Linked DNA regions of Homo sapiens. The protein of the gene in region 1 purifies or fractionates together with the protein of each later gene. This does not show direct contact. Each region holds a gene or a part of one and is shown in the gene's direction. Other genes may lie near its edges.

What was found.
Region 2: the proteins of NOSIP (region 1) and HMCES fractionate together in Homo sapiens (co-fractionation; one large-scale study listed by BioGRID). This does not show direct contact.
Region 3: the proteins of NOSIP (region 1) and BCAR3 purify together in Homo sapiens (co-immunoprecipitation; one large-scale study listed by IntAct). This does not show direct contact.

The regions. Positions count from the first base shown.
Region 1 is NC_000019.10:49,570,429-49,574,084, reverse strand, and holds part of NOSIP (nitric oxide synthase-interacting protein), read left to right. Parts: intron 1-3,656. UniProt on the Homo sapiens protein: E3 ubiquitin-protein ligase that is essential for proper development of the forebrain, the eye, and the face. Catalyzes monoubiquitination of serine/threonine-protein phosphatase 2A (PP2A) catalytic subunit PPP2CA/PPP2CB.
Region 2 is NC_000003.12:129,288,782-129,292,437, forward strand, and holds part of HMCES (abasic site processing protein HMCES), read left to right. Parts: intron 1-72; coding exon 73-216; intron 217-1,897; coding exon 1,898-2,023; intron 2,024-3,656.
Region 3 is NC_000001.11:93,563,885-93,566,838, reverse strand, and holds part of BCAR3 (breast cancer anti-estrogen resistance protein 3), read left to right. Parts: intron 1-2,954. UniProt on the Homo sapiens protein: Acts as an adapter protein downstream of several growth factor receptors to promote cell proliferation, migration, and redistribution of actin fibers.

The DNA.
Region 1 (3,656 bases):
TCAAGACCCAGCCTGGCCAACATGGTGAAACCCCGTCTCTACTAAAAATACAAAAAAAGTATCTAGGCATGGTGGTGTGTGCTTGTAATCCCAGCTACTTGGGAGGCTGAGGCAGGAGAATCACTTGAACCTGGGAGGTGGAGGTTGCAGTGAGTCAAGATCGTGCCACTGCACTCCAGTCCGGGTGACAGAGTGAGACTCCGTCTCCAAAAAAAAAAAAAAAAAAATACTTCAGTCCTGGTGACAGTGAGACTGTCTCCAAAATAAATACATACATACATACATACATACATAAAATAAAATAAATGGGCAGAACGTGGGGAGGTTGTCATGAGGACCGAATGTGTTCACATGTGGAAAGTGCTTCCCACAAGGTCTGATTCTTAAGGGGTTGAAGGATGTGATGATTACTTCTGTTCTTCCAGTGCTTCTGTGATTCACATGTTACTAATGAATTATTAGTGTATTAATGGCATGATGTCATGGCTGCATGGTTAGTTCATTGCTAACCCACCTCCCCTGGCCCTAGGATTGGAGGTGGTTCATTGATTCTATCATGACATCTCTGAGACCTCCCAGGTGCCAGGCAATGCTGGGACCCAGGCTGAAGTTCAACCCAGGCCCCACCAACCAGGGCCCCTACTCTGGAGCCGAAATACCGAGGGACGGGCTGTAACGGAGGTAGCTCAGGGCACGGTCAAGTGCAAGGAGAACCTAACTGATCCCGGAGAGGCAGGCTTCTTGGAGGAGGCAAACCTTGGCAGTGCTCTGGAGGAGAAAGGAGACAGGATTTCAGGGGAGGACAAGACACACACTAGCTGTCTGATCCACTCCCAGAGTTCAGCACAGTGCCTGAGGCCGCCTGCAGCCAGCTGGCACAGTGGATGGTCAAAGCCACAGGTGCTTGGATCAAACACAGCTGTAGGACTCACTAGCTGCATAACCTAGGGCACCGCCTCTGTGCCTCTCTTCATTTATAGCAACTATTTGAGGTGCTGTGATATTCAGTGGAGTGTTGTGATATTCGACCGTTTGAGGTGTTATGATATTCAGTAAAATGCTTAGAGCCAGGGTCTGCTTCAGAGCCGGGCTTTTTTTTTTTTTTTTTTTTTGAGACACAGTCTTGATCTGTTGGCCAGGCTGGAGTGCAGTGGCCCGATCTTGGCTCACTGCAACCTCTGCCCCCAGGTTCAAGCGATTCTCCTGCCTCAGCCTCCCGAGTAGCTGGGACTACAGGCACCTGCCACCACACCCAGCCAATTTTTGCATTTTTAGTAGAGACAGGGTTTCGCCACATTGGCCAGGCTGGTCTTGAACTCCTGACCTCAGGTGATCTGCCCGCCTTGGGCTCCCAAAGTGCTGGGATTACAGGCGTGAGCCACTGCTCCCAGCCATATATATATATATATTTTAAAGTATCTCCAATGAAAATTTAGCATCTGATGGCCAGGCCAATGTGGTGAAACCCCATCTGTGCTAAAAATACAAATATAAAAATACAAAAATGAGCTGGGCATGGTGGCACACGCCTGGAATTCCAGTTACTTGGGAGGCTGAGGCAGGAGAATGGCTTGAGCCCTGGAGGTGGAGGTTGCAGTGAGCCAAGATTGCACTATTTTGCACTCCAGACTGGGCAACAGAGCGAGACTCTGTCTCAAAAAAAAAAAAAAAAAAAAAAGGCTGGGTGCAGTGACTCATGCTTGTAATCCTAGCACTTTGGGAGGCTGAGGCGGGTGGATCACCTGAGGTCAGGAGTTCGAGACCAGCCTGCCCAACATGGCGAAACCCCATCTCTACTAAAAATACAAAAAATTAGCCAGGCATGGTGGCGGGTGCCTGTAATCCCAGCTACCTGGAAGGCTGAGGCAGGAGAATCACTTGAATCGGGGAGGTGAAGGTTGCAGTGAGCCGAGATCACACCACTGCACTCCACCCTAGGTGATAAAAGCGAAACTCCATCTCAAAAAAAAAAGAAAAAAAAAAGAAAATTTAGCATCTGAATTACTGAAATTACTGAGATGTGCTGAAAGAGTAAAATACATTCTGGATTTCAAAGGCTACAAATAAAGGAATGGATTGGCTTTTTTTTTTTTTTTTTTTTGAGACAGAGTCTCACTCTGTCGCCAGGCTGAAGTGCAGTGGTGCGATCTGGGCTCACTGCAACCTCCACCTCCTGGGTTCAAGCGATTCTTCTGCCTCAGCCTCCCGAGCAGCTGGGACCACAGGCGCGCACCAACACACCCAGCTAATTTTTGTATTTTTAGTAGAGATGGGGTTTCACCATGTTGGCCTGGATGGTCTCAACATCTTGACCTTGTGATCCACCCGTCTCAGCCTCCCAGAGTGCTGGCATTACAGGTTTAAGCCACCGTGGCCAGCCTGATTGGCCTTTTTTCTGAGATTGTGACTTTCCTAGGAAAACTGACAGTTGTCACCTAGTTAAAAGGAATGGCTCCAGAGCCTGGCTGCCTGGGTCTGAGTCCCAGCTCTGCCATTTCCCAGCTGGGACATGCTGTGAGCCTGTTTCCTGTGCTGTGAGGTAGGGATTATGCTGACATCGGTCGCTCCTGCTCTTTGCCTGTTTCCTCTCTGAAATGCTGGTGACAGCAGATGGCAGCAGTCTGCTTTGTAGTTTGAAATTGGACCTACCAAAGAGACAATATAGTGTGGGGCAGGAGAGCTCAGCTTTCAGAGTTTGTAAATCCTGAAACTGGCTATTCTTCCACCCTTGGTTGGAGGCGCTCACGCTTTCTGGTCTCAGGATCTTAAAAATCACTGAGTTTTAAAAATCAAAGAGTTTGCCGGGTGCAGTGGTTCATGCCCGTAATCCTTGCACTTTGGGAGGCTGAGGTGGGCGGATCACTTGAGATCAGGAGTTCAGAACTAGCCTGGCCAACATGGTGAAACCCTGTCTCTACTAAAAAATACAAAAAAAAAAAAAAAAAAATTAGCTGGGCGTGGGCGCCTGTTATCTCAGCTACTTGGGAGTCTGAGGCAGGAGAATTGCTTGAACCCAGGAGGTGGAGGTTGCAGTGAGCCGAGATCACACCACTGCACTCCAGCTTCGGCAACAGAGCAAGACTCCATCTCAAAAAAAACAAATTAAATTAAAAAAAGTTTAAATGCTCCCTCTATAGGTGTTCCTCCTATTTTTGGAGGGAAAATGTCCCCATCTATGTAGAAACCTCAGTTCTTGGCCACAAAACAGCAAGCAAGCTCATCTCTGGGAAAGCCGAGGTGCCCAGAGCCAAATACTGCAGAGGGTCAAGGGAGTTGACAACTAAGAATAGAGTGGGGAATGTGTCCATGAAAAGGTCACCGTGACCTTCATGAGTGGCAGTTGTGGGGGCTGGGGAGCGGATGGCAGGTGAGGGGAGGCAACAGGTGTTGGACGTTCACTGAGAAGCTTGGGGGTCAGGGGGAAGTCGGAGGAGGAGCCTGGCATGTGGAGGGGACCCTGGGTCAAGTTGGGGTGTTTGATCAAGGTCGCCCTTCTGCAAGCAGCCCTGGCTGCCTCAGGGGGCACATTGATCGGGAAGGGGCGTGAGGGGGTATTTAGCGTGATAGGAAGGTTCTGTATCTCCATAGGGTCGTGGTCACAAGGGTGTATACATTTGTCAGATCGCATCCAACTGTAAAGGTCTTTGCTTTGATTC
Region 2 (3,656 bases), on another chromosome or scaffold:
TAATAAATACATATGTTAAATTAGGTTAGAATTTCATTATGATCTCCTCACTAGATCTTCTCTCCGTGGCAGGATGCAGACTCATCTGAGCGTATCATTGCTCCCATGCGCTGGGGCTTGGTCCCTTCTTGGTTCAAAGAAAGTGATCCTTCCAAGCTGCAGTTCAATACTACCAACTGTCGTAGTGATACCGTAATGGAGAAACGGTCATTTAAGGTAGGTGGCTGGTAGCTATTAGTGCCCCGTATACCTCAGAAATAAGGTTCCAAAGGGTGTTTCCATCCTAGCCTACAGAGGACAACCAAAAATAAATAAATAACACAAAAAAGAATGTTCCCAGTTGTTAATGTGGAATGCTATTTTGTTACTACATAACAAACCACACCAGACTTAGTAGTGTGAAACAAAATGATAAACATTATCTCTCATATTCTCTGGGTTGACTGGGCTCATCTGGGCAGTTTTCACTTGGAAGTTCTCATGTTGCAGTTAGATGGCAGCTGAGGCTGGATGTCCAAGATGACTTCTTCACCCACATCTGACCCTTCAGCTGGGATGACTAGAACAACTAGAAGGCTTTCCATATGCCTAGCTCGAGGGTGTCAGGGTAGCCAGGCTTCTGTTACGGTGACTCATTTACCCCAGAGCTCATGATCCAACAGAGCAGGACAGAAGATATAAGCCTTTGTCTTACAGCATCACTTAATCTTGGCAGTCATACAGCATTACTTATGCTGTATTCTTTTATTGTTATTGTTTAATTTTTTTTTTTAAATAGAGACAAGGTCTGGCTATGTTGCCCAGGCTGGTCTCAAACTCCTGGGCTCAAGTGATCCACCTGTCTGGGCCTCCCAAAGTACTGGGATTACAGGTGTGAGCTATCACGCCCGGCCTACTTCTGTTGCATTCTATGGGTTACACAGAGCCAGCCCAAATTCAGTGTGGGAGGTGTCTACATAGGGTGTGAATACTGGGAAGCATGCTTCATTGGGGAGGCACCTTTGAAGACTAGCTATGACAAGTACCTATTTGTTAGAAAAGAGGTGATTGCTTTTATGTACATTATTTAATCTTTTCAACATCTATGTGAGTTGTGACTTTCTTTATACATAAGAAAAGAGAGTGGCCGGGCACGGTGGCTCACACCTATAATCCCAGCACTTTGGGAGGCCAAGATGGGCGGATCACGAGGTCAGGAGATCGAGACCATCCTGGCTAACACGGTGAAACCCCGTCTCTACTAAAAATACAAAAAATTAGCCGGGCGTGGTGGCGGACGCCTGTAGTCCCAGCTACTCGGGAAGCTGAGGCAGGAGAATGGCTTAAGTAAACCCAGGAGGTGGAGCTTGCAGTGAGCCGAGATCACGCCACTGCACTCCAGCCTGGGCGACAGAGCAAGACTCCGTCTCAAAAAAAAAAAAAAAAAGAAAAGAGAGGTACAGAGAAATTAAATAACTGTTTTAAGGTCATACATTGGCAGACCTCAGATTTTATGTATTTATTTGTTTGTTTATTTATTTTGAGATGGAGTCTCATACTTTTGCCCAGGCTGGAGTGCAGTGGCATGATCTTGGCTCACTGCCACCTCTGCCTCCAAGTTCAAGTGATTCTCGTGCTTTAGCCTCCCAGGTAGCAGGGACTACAGGTGTGCACTACCACGCCCAGCTGATTTTTATATTTTTAGTAGAGATGGGCTTTCACCTTGTTAGCCAGGCTGGTCTCGAACTCCTGACCTCAAGTGATCCTCCCATCTCGGCCGCCCAAAGTGTTGGGATTACAGCCGTGAGCCACCCGCCTGGCCCAAACCTCAGATTTTAATTCAAGTTCTCCAAGTAATGGCAGCCTGTGAAACATGATTGTATCACTAAGACCATATCTTGCTCACATTTTCCCTCAGGTGCCTCTGGGAAAGGGAAGACGCTGTGTCGTTTTAGCAGATGGATTCTATGAGTGGCAGCGATGTCAGGGAACAAACCAGAGGCAGCCATACTTCATCTATTTTCCTCAAATCAAGACAGAGAAGGTATCATTATCAGCATTCACAATATATATTTGGAAAGGCACAGGGAAACAAATTAATCCAAAGGACATTTTTTTCTTCCCCATAGTTTTATTTATTTATTTTAAAATAACAGCTTTGGCCCAGTGCGGTGGCTCACGCCTGTGATCCCAGCACTTTGGGAGCCCAAGACGGGAAGATTGCTTGAGCCTAGGAGTTTGAGACCAGCCTGGGCAACATGGTGAAACCCCGTCTCTACAAACAATACAAAACTAGCTGGGCATGGTGGTGTGTGCCTGTAGTCCCAGCTACTCGGAAGGCTGAGGTGGGAGGATCACTTGAACCCACGAGATAGAGGCTGCAATGAGCTATGATCACACCACTGCACTGGGCGACAGAGCAAGACTCTGTCAAAATAAAATAAAATAAAGTGAAATGAAATGAAATGAGCTCATTGAGAGATAATTCACCTTAAAATTCACCTTTTTAAAATGTGCAATTCAGGAATGTTTTAGTATGTTCAAAGTATGCAATTATTACCTCTATTTTTAGAATATTTTTATCACTCTAGAAGGAAACTACATATCCATTAGCAATCACTCTTTATTCTCCACTATGCCCAGCCCCTGTCAAACACGAATCTACTTTCCATCTCTGGATTTGCCTATTTTGGACATTTCATAAAAACAGAATCATAGAATATGTGGTCTTTTGTGACTGGCTTCTTTGATTTAGCATAATGTTTTCAAGATTCATCCATGTTTGGCATGGATCAGCACTTCATTCCTTTTTGTAAGAACAGACCACATTTTGTTAATTCATTCATCAGTTGATAGACACTTGGATTGTTTCCACTTCTTGGTTATTATGAATAATGCTGCTATGAACATTCATGTACAAGTTTTGCATGGATTTGTTTTCATCTCTCTTGGATAGATGCCTAGGAGTGGAATTGCTAGGTCATATTACAACTCTACGTTTAACATTTCCTTCATAAAACTTTCACTGTGGCTGGGCGCAGTGGTTCAGGCCAGGCACGGTTGCTCATGCCTGTAATCCCAGCACTTTGGGAGGCCAGAGCAGGTGGATTACTTGAGCTCAGGAGTTCAAGACCAATCTGGGCAACATGGCGAAAACCCATCTCTACCAAAAATACAAAAAATTAGCTGGGCGTGGTCCCAGCTACTTGGGAGGCTGAGGTGGGAAGATGACTTGAGCCCAGGAGGTGGAGGTTGCAGTGAGCTGAGGTCGTGCTACTGTACTCCAGCCTGAGTGACAGAGTGAGACCCCATCTCAAAAATGAAACAAAAACCCTTTCACTGTAAGACATAATTTGAACTGTTCATGTTAAAACATTATCAGGAGATTGAAAACAAATCTGACATGCCAACATCATGTTTTATTTTTAATTAGATTATTTAGTCTGACACTGCTAAAGCACCTGAGTTCTTAGCAGTTTGCTTGTTAAAATTGGGAATTGTTTGTTCACCTGTCATCTCATTTTGGGGACTGGAAATAGTGTTACCGAGTAAAAGGGACTTGCTACCCAATGTGCTAGAAGCCAATACCATGATACTGAGTAGCTGGTCCCAGCTACTTGGCAGGCTGAGGTGGAATGATAGCTTGAGCCTGGGGTGGGGAGTGGAGGGTGCAGTGA
Region 3 (2,954 bases), on another chromosome or scaffold:
GGAGAATCACTTGAACCCGGGAGGCGGAGGTTGCAGTGAGCCGAGATCGCACCACTGCACTCCAGCCTGGGCGCTGGGCAACAGAACAAGAATTGGCCAACTTGCCTACCACTTATTAATAGTACCTCTAATAGGTGAGATTAGAAAAGGTGATGTGCCAAGATGAGGAGGTGGAGTTTTATCCAGACCTCATTTATCTGCATTCCTGTTCCTTCCCAGTCACACTGGGAAGTGAGCTCCCCTGCTCTTAGCATCAGACACATCCTGGAAAGTGTGGGGCAGTGTTGCGTAAACGGATTTTTCTTACAAGTGCTATGGTGACAGAAAGCAGCCTCCTCAGTCAGCACGGCCGGCATTTATCACACATGTGGCATGCGCGCGGCACCGTGCTAACTGGATGTCCTGAGGAATTTAAGCAGGTACGATAAATGCAGTGTATACTGTGGGAGCACTTAGGGGAAGGGACTGATTTGGTCAGAGATGTTAGGAAAGAGGAAGCACCTGGTGACAGCTTCCCAGAAAACACTGCATTGATTGTTAAAGGACAAAAGCAGTTACCAGCAAGCAGGGCTGGGAATTCCACTCAGATGGCACAACCCAAGCAAAGGCGCTGAGAGACCTTGGGGAAAACTGGGATCCACAAGTACTTGGGTTTAGATTTGTGCAAAGTATGACCTAAGGAATGGCCAACTAGGCTACAGAGGGAGGTGCAGCTGGGAAGCCCTTCCACATAAGACCGTGGCTGAAGAAGAGCCAGTGAAGGGTTTAATCATGGGAGGGTGTCACATGGTCAGATTTCTGTTTTAAAGTAAATTACTCTGGTGTCTGTGTGGAGGAAGGCTGGAAGGCTGAAGGTTTGCTGGCAGAAAGACCATTCAGGAAGGAGGGCTTTGCCAAGGCAGTCATCAAGGATGACTATTTTCCATTACTATATAATTTTTTAAATTCTTCAAGGGCTCACAGTTTGATTCACAAAGTTAAGAACTATGTGGGGGCAGGAGACTCCATTTATTTAATTCTAAAAGGGAGCTGCCTCAGAACCAGATGTGGGACTTAGTCGTTTGCACCATCTGCTGTGGGTATAAGCACCGCATACCTGTTTCATTTTCTTCCTCAAAAAGTTCTCCAGGATTGGCTGTATGTTACTCAAACAATAAAAGCACACAAGTCAACAAGTATCAGAGTGCCTACTTAGACAAAGCCAATGAATACATTACCATGGATGTTGCATAAGCCAATACATCAGGGTGGGTTTTGAGAAAAGTGTGCCATAAGCTGCTCTACAGCTTTAAATCACTTTAAAGGTCACTGATGGAATTTTTCAGTCGATCCTAATATAGATTTCACAGCAAGTACCCATTGCTGTAAGTGACAGTGAACCCAGGAAAGGCAGAGATCTGCTCACCAGCATAGACCAGACCACGTGAATGGGAAGGGGCTCAAAGCATGTATGAATAGGAGTCACCATCTGGGGGCCGGGCGCAGTGGCTCATGCCTGTATTCCCAGCACTTTCGGAGGCTGAGGTAGGCAGATCACCTGAGGTCAGGACTTAGAGGCCAGCCTGGACAACATGGCAAAACCCCGTCTCTGTTAAAAATACAAAAATTAGCCGGGGAATTTTGAGAGGGAATACTTGAGAGGCTGAGGCAGGAGTATCAAGCGATTCTCCTTGATTCTTAATTTCATTGAGCCGAGATTGTGCCACTGCACTCCAGCCTGGTCTCAAAAAAAAAAAAAGTCACCATCTGGCCTTTGGTTGGTTATCCACCAAGGATATTCTGGCATCATCAGGAAGAAAATATTCCTGTTGTCCTTTCTACAACCAAGATCCTGTGATCTAGATGGCAGGTATATTTAATGGCAGAACAAACTATCCCAGCAATAATAAAGGATGAGAACCACATGACTCTTTGGCTAGAGGCTTCTCTCTCTTTAAAAGAGTTGCCTGAACATCTTTGGCCTTAAGCAGACCACATCCTCTCTTAGATGGAATAGAGTTAAGAAATAGGCCCACACATATGGCTGACAGTTGATTTTCAACAAAGGTGCCAAAATAATTCACTGGATAAAGTATAATCCTGCAAATGGTATCTGCTATTGGATATCCATATGCAAAAAAGTGAATCTCGATCCTTACCTCATACCATACACAATAATCCAAAATGGATCATAGACCCAAAATGTAAGAGCTAAAGTATAACCTTCTGTAAGAAAACATAGGAGAAATTCTTTGTGCCCTTAAGCTAAGTAAAGACTTCTTGGCCAGGCACGGTGGCTCACGCCTGTAATCCCAGCATTTTGGGAGGCTGAGGCAGGCGGATCACCTGAGGTCGGGAGTTCAAGACCAGCCTGACCAACGTGGAGAAACCCCGTCTCTACTAAAAATACAAAATTAGCCGGGCGTGGTGGCGCATGCCTGTAATCTCAGCTACTCGGGAGGCTGAGGCAGGAGAATTGCTTGAACCCAGGAGGCAGAGGTTGCACCATTGCACTTCAGCCTGGGCAACAAAAGCAAAACTCCATCTCAAAAAAAAAAAAAAAAAAAAAGAAAGAAAGAAATTCTTAGGACACAAAAAGCATGAACCACAGCAGAAAACATTGAGTACACATATATCTGATAAAGGACTTACATCTAGGCTATACAAAGAACTCTTACAACTCAGTGAGAAGATAAAATTTAAATAGACAAAAATTTGAATAGACACTACATCAGAGAAGGCATACAAATGACAACTACATGAAAAGATGTTCAAAGCATTCATCATTAGGGAAATGTAAATTTAAACCAACCACAATGAGATACCACCACACTATCTAGAATGGCTACAACTAAAAAGAATGATAGGCCAGGCACGGTGGCTAATGTCTGTAATCCCAGCACTTTGGGAGGTCGAGGCGGGTGGATCACCTGAGGTCAAAAGTTCGAGACCAGCCTGGCCAACATGGCAAAACC